Linked DNA regions of Homo sapiens. The protein of the gene in region 3 interacts with the protein of the main gene of each other region in a biochemical or structural test. Each region holds a gene or a part of one and is shown on either strand. Other genes may lie near its edges. The genes, in order: RB1, EZH2 and CDK1.

The links.
Region 1: of the proteins of CDK1 (region 3) and RB1, one has a biochemical effect on the other in vitro, tested with the Homo sapiens proteins (8 studies listed by BioGRID).
Region 2: of the proteins of CDK1 (region 3) and EZH2, one has a biochemical effect on the other in vitro, tested with the Homo sapiens proteins (5 studies listed by BioGRID).

The regions. Positions count from the first base shown.
Region 1 is NC_000013.11:48,376,713-48,380,546, forward strand, and holds part of RB1 (retinoblastoma-associated protein), read left to right. Parts: intron 1-205; coding exon 206-322; intron 323-2,881; coding exon 2,882-2,938; intron 2,939-3,122; exon of another isoform or gene 3,123-3,162; intron 3,163-3,340; coding exon 3,341-3,372; intron 3,373-3,452; coding exon 3,453-3,529; intron 3,530-3,834. UniProt on the Homo sapiens protein: Tumor suppressor that is a key regulator of the G1/S transition of the cell cycle. The hypophosphorylated form binds transcription regulators of the E2F family, preventing transcription of E2F-responsive genes.
Region 2 is NC_000007.14:148,877,585-148,881,418, forward strand, and holds part of EZH2 (histone-lysine N-methyltransferase EZH2), read right to left. Parts: intron 1-3,834. UniProt on the Homo sapiens protein: Polycomb group (PcG) protein. Catalytic subunit of the PRC2/EED-EZH2 complex, which methylates 'Lys-9' (H3K9me) and 'Lys-27' (H3K27me) of histone H3, leading to transcriptional repression of the affected target gene.
Region 3 is NC_000010.11:60,781,478-60,785,077, reverse strand, and holds part of CDK1 (cyclin-dependent kinase 1), read right to left. Parts: intron 374-3,600; coding exon 217-373; intron 1-216. UniProt on the Homo sapiens protein: Plays a key role in the control of the eukaryotic cell cycle by modulating the centrosome cycle as well as mitotic onset; promotes G2-M transition via association with multiple interphase cyclins.

The DNA.
Region 1 (3,834 bases), on a different chromosome or scaffold from region 3:
AGTTGTACTGTAGTATTTTTTGCTCATTAACATCCAGTGAAATGATATTGTCTGCTTATGTTCAGTAGTTGTGGTTACCTAGTTATTATGGAAGTGTTTCCACATTTTTATGAACAATTTAAAAAGTCATATATTATGGAGCAGAAAATATTAATTCTGATTACACAGTATCCTCGACATTGATTTCTGTTTTTACCTCCTAAAGAACTGCACAGTGAATCCAAAAGAAAGTATACTGAAAAGAGTGAAGGATATAGGATACATCTTTAAAGAGAAATTTGCTAAAGCTGTGGGACAGGGTTGTGTCGAAATTGGATCACAGGTAACTTGAATTCATTGTAATTCGTGGTACTATAGAGTAATAATATTAAAAGCAGCATCTTTCCAGTTCGTATAAATACTCTAACAGTATTTGTCTAGTAGTATAAAATACTGTCAGATACTATATCCCTGCTGCCTGTGTATGCTGCTATTTATGGGTAACTTTATGGAAAACTACCTCCCACCCCATTATAAAAACTATGTAATAAAGGAACACATAGCCATTGTAGAAATTTTGGAAAATACAACTAAGAAAAAAATTGAAATCTTTGATATTAAATTTTTGATTTTGCTTTGACTTCTACATGTATGACTGTTCATGTATGCATATCCTAATGTGAATGGGACTATACATGCCATTTGTCAGTGATATTATTGAGTGATATTATTTCAGGAAATCTAAAGCTAATATAATAGGTAAGAGTATGGGCCATGGAGTGACAGCCCTGGGTTTATATTTGGTTCTACCATTGTTGATCTTGGACATGTCATTTAACTTCTCTGAGATTCAGGTTCTATATTTGCTCTGCTTTGTTGTGTGGCATTAATGAGGATAATATACAAAAATATATTGGAAAACTGGAGTCCACTGTACACATTTATTTCAGTGTAGTGAGGTTATATTTTGATGCCATCAGTGTTTTAAACATTGATATTTAATGGTTCTTTTTGATTCTACAGCCATGCACCACTTAACAGGGATATGTTCTGACAAATGCATCATTAGGCAATTTTGTTGTGTGAACCTGGTAGAGTGTGTCTGTACAAACCTAGATGGTATAGCCGATTGTACATCTAAGCTGTATGATATAGCCTATTCATTCCTAGGCTACAGGCCTCTACAGCATGTGTACTGAATACTGTAGGTAATGGTAACATAATGTGTTACCATTTGTGTATCTAAATATATCCAAACATAGAAAAGGTAAAGATATAGTACAAAAGATAAAAAATGGAACATTTGCACAGAGCACTTACTATGAAAGGAGCTTACAGGATTGAAAGTTGCTCTGAATGAGTCAGTGAGTCGAGTGGCAAGTGAATGTGAAGGCCTACAATATTACCTATGACATGACTGTACACTATCGTAGACTTTATAAATACTACACTTAGGCTAAACTAATTTCATAAACATTTTTTCTTTCTTCAGTAGTAAATTAACCATAGCTCACTGTAACTTTTTTACTTTATAAATCTTCAGTTTGTAAGAAACTTTTGACTCTTATAACACTTAGCTTAAAACACAAACACCTTATACAGCTGTACAAAAATATTTTCTTTCTTTATAATCCTTATTCTGTACACTTTTTTCTATTTAAAAATTTTTTCAATTTCATAAAGATTTTTGCCAAAAACAAAGGCAAACACACACATTAGCCTAGGCCTACACAGGATCAGGATTAACAATACCACTGTCTTCTGCCTCCAAATTCTGTCCCAAGTCTTCAGGGACAATAAAATGCATAGAGCTGTCAACTCCTATGATGATGATGCTATCTTCTGGAATATCTCCTGAAGGAGCTGCCTGAGGGTGTTTTACATTTAACTTTTTTTTTTTTTTACAAGTAGAAGGAGGATGCTCTAAACTAATAAAAAGTATAGTATAATAAATACATAAACCAGTAACATGTTCATTATTAAGTATTATGTACTGTACATAATTGTATGTACTATACTTTTATATGACTGGCAGTGCAATAGGTTTATTTACATCAGCATCATCACAAAGATGTGAGTAATGTAATGCATTGCACTACATTACACTAAACAATAGGAATTTTTCAGCTCCATTATAATCTTATGGGACTACTGTTAGATATGCAGTCAGTTATTGACCAAAAACGTTGTTATGCGGTGCATGATTATATATGAGATTTTTGCTCTTAGTTTGGAAGGAAATAATATGGTGTGTGTTTATATTTCTAAAATTTGGTTATTCTTTCAAATAATGGGAACTAGTTATTTGGCTAAAACTTCTTGCTCATAAGGTCAGTTTGATCTGATTTTTGCCTGTGTCAGTTTTACTAAATTTATGGACAAAGACTGTCCTCTTAATCCTGGACAGCTATCTTGAAAATACATGTCCTAGGTCATGAGAAATGTTATATAAGGTACATAAAGTGCTTAAAATAGTACTGGGCACATAACCTATCTTTAGTATGAATGATATAAACTGAAATGGAGTTAAGGAAATCCAGGTACTGGACCTACCCTCTTGTTAATTTACTTGGGAATGTTAATCACCACTTAATACTTAAGTTGTGAGTTTTAGACAAGCTAGCTTTTGTGTTGTCTTGGCGGCCATATTTGTAAGAAGGGTGAGAAGTATGTTTTAAGAAAAGGCTTTTTAAAAAATTTTAGTAATTGTCAGCTGGGTATAGTGGTACATGCCTATAATCCCAGCCTCTTGGGAGGCCAAAGCAGGAGGATCTCTTGAGCCCAGGAGTGTGAAGGCCAGCCTGGGCAAAACAGTGAGACTCCATCTCAAAAAAAAAAAAAATTTCATAATTGTGATTTTCTAAAATAGCAGGCTCTTATTTTTCTTTTTGTTTGTTTGTAGCGATACAAACTTGGAGTTCGCTTGTATTACCGAGTAATGGAATCCATGCTTAAATCAGTAAGTTAAAAACAATATAAAAAAATTTCAGCCGGGCGCGGTGGCTCACGCCTGCAATCCCAGCACTTTGGGAGGCCGAGGTGGGCAGATCAGGAGGTCAAGGCATCAAGATCATCCTGGCCAAAATGGTGAAACCCTGTCTCTACTAAAAGTACAAAAATTAGCTGGGCGTGGTGGTGTAGACCTGTAGTCCCAGCTACTTGGCAGGCTGAGGCAGGAGAATCCCTTGAACCAGGGAGGTGGAGGTTGCAGTGAGCCAAGATTGTGCCATTTCACCCCAGCCTGGCAACAGAGCAAGACACCATCTAAAAAAAAAAAAAAAAAAAAAAAAAATTCAATGCTGACACAAATAAGGTTTCAATTAAACAACTTCTTTTTTTTTTTTTAAATTATCTGTTTCAGGAAGAAGAACGATTATCCATTCAAAATTTTAGGTAAATTTTTTACTTTTAGTAAAAAATTTTTTTCTTTTTATAGAAGTAAGTATTTTATAATCTTTTTTTTTTTCCTTTAGCAAACTTCTGAATGACAACATTTTTCATATGTCTTTATTGGCGTGCGCTCTTGAGGTTGTAATGGCCACATATAGCAGTAAGTTAAATTTTCATAAATAAACACTTTTGTTCAATTTAAAGTTAAAATGTGGTGTGTTTCTTTGGTCGGGGGAGAGGGATAGTGTGAGGTTAAGGAGAAGGAATGCTTATTTTAGATCACTATATACTGAAGAATGTAATTGGTCATTATAAGCCATTTAAGAGGCTTATTTGAGTTATTTGAGGCCATCTTGGGGATAATATTTCACTAGGCTTCTCTTCTGAGTATACTGGTATACTGAATCCAAAAAAGGTACTTTTTGAAATCCCTCCGAAGACCTTTGAGATTGTAGAGTGCCAAAG
Region 2 (3,834 bases), on a different chromosome or scaffold from region 3:
AAGACATCAAGAGGATAACACCCCAGACACAAATTGGTAGCTCAGGGACTGGAACCCAAGAAACTGTCTCCAAAGACCACATCCTTAGAACTCTACTCTCCTCCCCTCTCAAATGCATACTATTACCACTCTGGCTGAGAAAGAAATCCTCAAAGTTAACCTTTAGTCTGTCTAGGGTTTCACACTGTACCTTCCATCAAACTACAATTACCTACTTTTAAATGTAACTTTCTGAATGATTCAAATAAACTCATTCTTCTCGGAGCTGACATATCTTTAATCACCCAGAAAGCCAGCAGATAACACAGAACAGATAATATGGAGTAGATAATATGTAGTGAAACAGAACTAAGTTTGGATCCCGAATGCAAATTCCCAGCTGAATAATCCTGGGCAAATTCTTAACTCCTCCCCTGTAGACAGTTTTCTTCAGTTTCCTCATCTGTAAAGGTTTTCGGAGTGTGTTATTAAATTTTGTATTCTGGTAAGATATATAGATATAGAGAGAGATATATATAGATACAGATACATATCGTGTAAAATTTACCATTTTAACCATTTTTAAGTGTACAATTCTGTGGCATTAAATATATTCAAAATATTGTTCAACCATCACTATTATCCATCTCCAGAATTTTTTCACCATTCCAAACAGAAACTCTGTATTCATTAAACTCCCCATTCACCTCTCCCCTCACAGCCCTGGTAACCTCTATTCTACTTTCTGTCTCCATAGAGTTGCCTCTTCTAACTACCTCATATAAATGAGATCATACAATTTTGTATTTTTGTACAAAAGGTTGTATCTGGCTTATTTCACTAAGCATAATATTCTCCAGCTCCATCCATGTATCAGAATTTCACTCCTTTTATGTCTGAATTATTTTGAAATCTTTTTACTTTTATTTTGAAATTTCACTCCTTTTACGTCTTTATTTCACTCCTTTTATGTTTTCATTGGTTTATATACCACATTTTGTTAATTCGCCTGTTGGCAGACACAAGGTGGTTCTTACAAATATTAAAAACAAAAGCTGGGTGCAGTGGGTCACACCTATAATCCCAGCACTTTGGGAGGCTGAGGTAGGTGGATCTCTTGAGTTCAGGAGTTCAAGACCAGCCTGGGCAACATGGCAAAACCCTGTCTCTACAAAAAATACAAAAATTAGCCAGGCGTGGTGGCATGCACTTGTAGTCCCAGCTACTTGGGAGGCTGAGATGGAAGGATCGCTTGAGCCCAGGAGGCAGAGGTTGCAGTGAACTGAGATCACGCATCTGCACTCCAGCCTGGGTGACAACAAGACCCTGTCTCCAAAAAAAAATTTTTAATTTAAAAATGTTTAAAAAGTATCCAGGCCAGGCGTGCGCAGTAGCTCACGCCTGTAATCCCAGCACTTTGGGAGGCCGAGGCAGGCGGATCATCTGAGGTCAGCAGTTCGAGACTAGCTTGGCCAACGTGGTGAAACCCCATCTCAACTAAAAATACAAAAATTAGCCAGGTGTGGTGGTGCGTTCCCGTAATCCCAGCTACTCGGGAGGCTGAGGTAGGAGAATCGCTTGAACCCAGGAGGCAGAGGTTGCAGTGAGCCGAGATCACGCCACTGCACTCCAGCCTGGGCAACAAGTGTGAGACTCCATATCAAAAAACAAAAACAAAAACAAAAAACAAAAACAAAAACAACACAGCAGGGTGTGGTGGCTCACACCTATAATCCCACCACTTTGGGAGGACGAGGCAGGTCAATCACTTGAGGTCAGGAGTTCCAGACCAGCCTGGCCAACACAGTGAAACCCAGTTTCTACTAAAATATAAAAATTATCGGAGGCTGGGCACAGTGACTGACGCCTGTAATCCTAGTACTTTGGGAGGCCAGGGCAGGTGGATCACCTGAGGTCGGGAGTTCGAGACCAGCCTGGCCAACATGGTGAAATCCCATCACTACTAAAAATACAAAAATTAGCCAGGCCTGGTGGTGCATGCCTGTAATCCCAACTACTTGAGAGGTGAGGCAGGAGAATCATTTGAACCCAGGAGGTGGAGGTTGCAGTGAGCCAAGATGGTGCCACTGCACTCCAGTCTAGGTGACAGAGTGACACTGCATCTCAAAAAAATAAATAATAAATAATAAATAAATAAATTAGCCGAGCGTGGTGGCGCACGCTTGTAGTCCCAGCTACTCAGGAGGCTGAGGCACAAGAATCACTTTCGAGACTCCGTCTCAAAAAAAAAAAGTATCTGGGTCAAACACAATGGCTCAGCCTGTCATCCCTGTACTTTAAGAGGCCAAGGCAGGAGGATTGCCTGGAGCCAGGAGTTTGAGATCAACGTGGGCAACAAAGCAGGATCCCATCTCTACAAAAAATTAAAAAATTAAATAAGTCACCACAATGGTGTGCACTGGTAATACCAGTTACTCAGGAGGCTGAGACAGGAGGATCCCTTGAGCCCAGGAGTTTAAGGATGCAGTGAGCTATGATCTTGTTCTGTCTTGCTATTGTTAATGGAAAACAAGACCAATTATTAAGAAACTGCTAACCACATAATCTAAACACAAATTTGTCATATTTTTATACCAAGTAGTGGAACAGTGGCAAGATATGGAATGGTGCAACTATCTTAGAAATTTACCAGCTGTAACTTTTGAGGTATCACTAAATTTGCTAATCTGTATTTAAATCATTTTAAAAGAATGATGAAAAGCATCCCAATAAATGATCCAATTACACTGTCGCTACATCCTTCAGTTTTAGCTCCAAAACCTACCTCAATTTACTCCAATAAAGAACTCATGAATTATAACAAAACAGCTTTTCAGTTAAAAGATCTACTACCCTCTCTCGCCCTTTCCCTTCCTTATATTTTTGCAAAGAGATCATCAATATCAACATTAAATCAAATTAAGCAAATACTATTACTAAATATCCAGATGATTCATCAAGTTCTCTCCAGTTGTCCGAGTGTAATAGTTGCATCTAAAGGATATCTAATGTTTAGTACTACAGATTATAACTAGGAAAAACTTGGAACTTGTTCACCTTGACAACTATTTTTCTTTGTAATCATTCCCTATTAAAGAGGGAGAAAAACACATTTCAAAGTTCCTCACATGAATACTAACATATCCTGTTCACTTTGCAAGTTCCTTTGTCAAATTATTTCCCTACATTTTTCATATTTCCTTAATTCATTCAACTATATTTAAAACCCCTATTCTCTAGCAAATACCAACGTAGGTACTAGGTATACAAAGAAAAAAATAAGACAGAGCCTCTACCAGGAGGCACTTTGACTGTAGGGAAGAGAGGGATGCATAAACAAGTGATTACAATACAATTGAGTCATGCTACAATAAAATATGATAAAACCCTGTGGGAACACAAGAGTGGGAATTCAGGGAAGACCTCCAGAAGGTAAAGTATGTATCATCTGACCATGAACCTTTCTCTGAATTTAATGAATTGCTGCTGTTCACTTATGCTCTCCCCCGAAGATTTCACCTACTCATATAGAATCTATCATGATTTACAGAAAATTTGTCATCTATACTGATATAAAGACTTCAAGGCTAATCCATAAATCATTGCTAATTAACCACAGAATACATTATATTGGAGGATTTGTCCTTGTTGGTTTTTAAAAAGCAGATCAACTTTCTCAATCACTGCTCATGTAAAGGGTAATACTGAAATAAATTCAGAATCCTTGAGCACACTACCTCAAAAGAAGGAAGGTATCCTGGGAAAATTCCAGTATGACTTGGAGAAATTTGCCTAAAATTTTTAAATGGCCAACATAAAGATATTCACTTAAATGTATTTGTGCAAGGCAAAGCT
Region 3 (3,600 bases):
ATTAATCTACATCACCCAGCTCCTCCAACTCTGTTCCTGCTTTAACAGCCTGTTCTCTTTTACATATGTGCGGCATTCTCAACTACCAAAAATAGGGTTCTAGTCCACTCAGTAAGGCTAGACCAAGAAATTGAGCAAATGTAAAGATTTCCAAGTTGAAATTTATATTTGAAATAGCATGCAGAAAATGGCTTACATTCAGATATTACAACATACCTGACTATATTTGGATGACGAAGTTCCTTTAATAGAGAAATTTCCCGAATTGCAGTACTAGGAACCCCTTCCTCTTCACTTTCTAGTCTGATTTTTTTCATGGCTACCACTTGACCTGTAGTTTTGTGTCTACCCTTATACACAACTCCATAGGTACCTGAAACAAAGTAAATAATATGCTGTGTGACACACCCCACAAACTAAAGATCTTTTTTTCTTTTTTTTTTTCCTTATGGCAGGGTCTTGTTTTCTTGTCCAGGTTGGAGTGCAGTGGGTCAATCAAGGCTCACTACAACCTCCTCCTCCTGGGCTCAGGGGATCCTCCCACGGCAGCCTCCCAAGTAGCTGGGACTACAGGCACATGCCACCACACTCGGCTAATTTTTGTCTTTTTGGTAGAGATGGGGTTTCACCATGTTGCCCAGGCCAGTCTGGAACTCGTGAGCTCAAGCAATCTACCTGCCTCGCCGCCCCAAAATGCTGAGATTACAGGCGTGAGCCACCGCACCTGGTCAAACTAAAGGATTTCAAGATCATTGAATCCCATAAGGGTCACATGATAGAAATGTCTGGTGTGGCCATATGGGAAGTATCTTACTCATACCCTCATTGCTTCCAAAAAGAAATTGAGAGTAACTACAATCTGTATGGCTTAAAAATAAAATTCATGTAGTCATCACAAGTTTTCTATACATCTAAATTACCATTAATGTTCCAGCATATTTTACAGAACAAAATAGATCATTTGCAAATTAAAATTAACCTTCTGTCAATATCCTACCCTGCAACGAAGTGGGCATAAAATATAGTGTAAAAATTTGGGCTCAGGAAATATTACTGATAAAAGTCATTATGACACTTTCAGAAAATACTGTAGAGTGCTTTATGCTTTTCAAAACACTTTTATCTGTATCTCAAAATACAGTCAACAGTCCTCATTCTCAAAAGAATGGAGAAAAAAGACCAGGTGTTTGTGTATTAAACCTAATAAAGCACATTGTATGTACTACATATTAGGAAAGCCTCACACCCATTTGCAAGTTGATGAAAATACTGATTTTGATATATGGGCTTCAGGTAATGAGCAACAATATCAATTATAAGGGATAGCAGGGAGGGAGGAGGTGGATACAGGGAATGAAATGGCAATAAGGGAGAAGACTAGCTAAAATCTGTCATATACGTGGCTGAATTCCCTAGATAAGTCTTTTTAAACTCGAGTTGGAGTTTAGGGAGGTCCTGAACCCCTTAAGTACACACAAAATTTTGTTGAATAGCTTGCTTTCCATGGCATTGGTTTAACTTCAAAAGTGATTAGAGTGCACTGTTCTAGGAAGAAGGCCTCTTCTATAGCTTTTATGAGTTTCTCTGAAAGTAGCAATATTTTAAAAAAGGCTAACAACCAACAAATTACCAACTGCTTGGTTAAAAAATTAAGCAGTTTGAGCAGTAGCAAATTGATGCTACTTAAGCTTAATTTTTTTGACAGAACCTCTATACAAAAGTCTATGTTTTCTTAAATACTGGTGTCATTTTAAAACTATAAACTGACATGAGTCATTTTATACTATTTTGATTAAATTGTGGATTAATGTATAACTTTTTGATAACCAAAATTACTCTACATTAAAGGAGAATTGACTATATTTAATCCTCACAGCCATCCTTAAAAGTAGGCAACCTTCATATACTTAAAATCTACATTTTTTTGGATGTAAATTCAGCTCTCATTAAACACAAAAAGTAGGTAAACCAGTAGCACAATCATCTGGCATACTGTTTAAGTGATCTCAGGAAAATTAGTCACTTGCATAATACAGTCACATAAACAGTTAATGGTAAGTTCAGAACTAATTTTTTTTCTAGCATCCTTTCTTCTCCCTCAAGTGTACAATCTCATCTAATCCTAAATAATTTTCAGAATTAACAATTAACCAGTGGCCAACACTCAATGTGTTGAATTTTAGAGATAATATCACTTCTCACTGAACTACTGGAAGAGGGGTTAAACAAAGCAGAACTTTCTATTGGTTAATCATCCAAAATTATTTTTGAAATACATGGCATATCCTCCAAAATGAACTAAGAATTCTAAAGACAGAAATACTCTAGGGTATTTAACTAAGTATAAATAACTAAGGAGGCAAAAATCATTAACACAGGTAAGCCTAGAAGGAGATCAGTCTAAGTCTAATGGAAGATTTATCCCAGGAAACAAAAAGAAACAAAAGAAAAATATGTAGGATATGATCAAGTTATGGAGGCCCTTAAGCAGAAAACCTTCATTAAGCAAGTATTTATCAAATGCCTACTAAATGCCAGGCAAGGTTCCACCATCATGGATACTGCTACTCTATGATCCAAAAAGACATTTTCTTAAGACAGGAAGGATTTCAAAGATTAGTATCACAACACTCAGATTTCTGTAATTCAGAAGAAACCAGAGAACAATTTTTGTAATATTTAAAATAGTAAAGTCTGGAGGTATTTAAGAAATGAATTAGGTTGTCAAGACTCACTGTCAAGTGAGAGAAAAGGCAGAGACTGTTCTAAATCAGAATTAATGTCAATGAAAAAAATAAAAAATAATGCTAACATACATACAGATAATAAAGTAAACATGACAAAACACCAACATCTTGGTAAAAATATTACAAGTTCATTGCATAAATCTTTCAATATAGATTTGGAGATGTTCAAAATGAAAAGTTGAGGGGAAAAAATATAACTTTTAAAGTAGTATTTTAATACTAGACTTTAACCAGATACCTGGCAGAACCAAAAGAAAATTCTGTGTGAATCATTTAGGCCTCCATTTATTTCCACAAGTTCCTTTTTCCAAAACAATATCCAGCACATAATCCAAAACAATCAGGCATTGGAGTAGAAATGACAATACAAGCCAGAAAAAGAAACAACAGTGTTCAGAAGAGCAAACAAGGAAAACAGATGTTATTATTATCTATTTGGCTATCTCCTGTGGGTTGGGCACTACTGATAGGCAGTGGGCAAACAGTTGTGAACAAGACAAAAACCCCAGCCCTCAAGGATCCTATGGTATGATGCAAAGGGAACTACAAAATGCTCTTGGACTAGAGGAGGAGATAAAAAATGAAGCCAGTAGAAACTGGCCTCCAGGTAGAAAGAACAGCCATTGCCAAAACTCATAGGCCAAATCACAGGATACATTTGAGGACATCAAAGAAATCCAAATTAAGAGTTAAGTGGCATTAGATGGAGCTGGTGAAGAGATGGTTTTGGAGACAGTGTTCATAGTAATAATACAATGTTCAAATGATAAACATTTGAAGGTTTTCTGAGTTAAAGCGCTCATAACAAATGCTTTCCATAATATTGTTCAATTGAATCATATCTTTCGTGTTA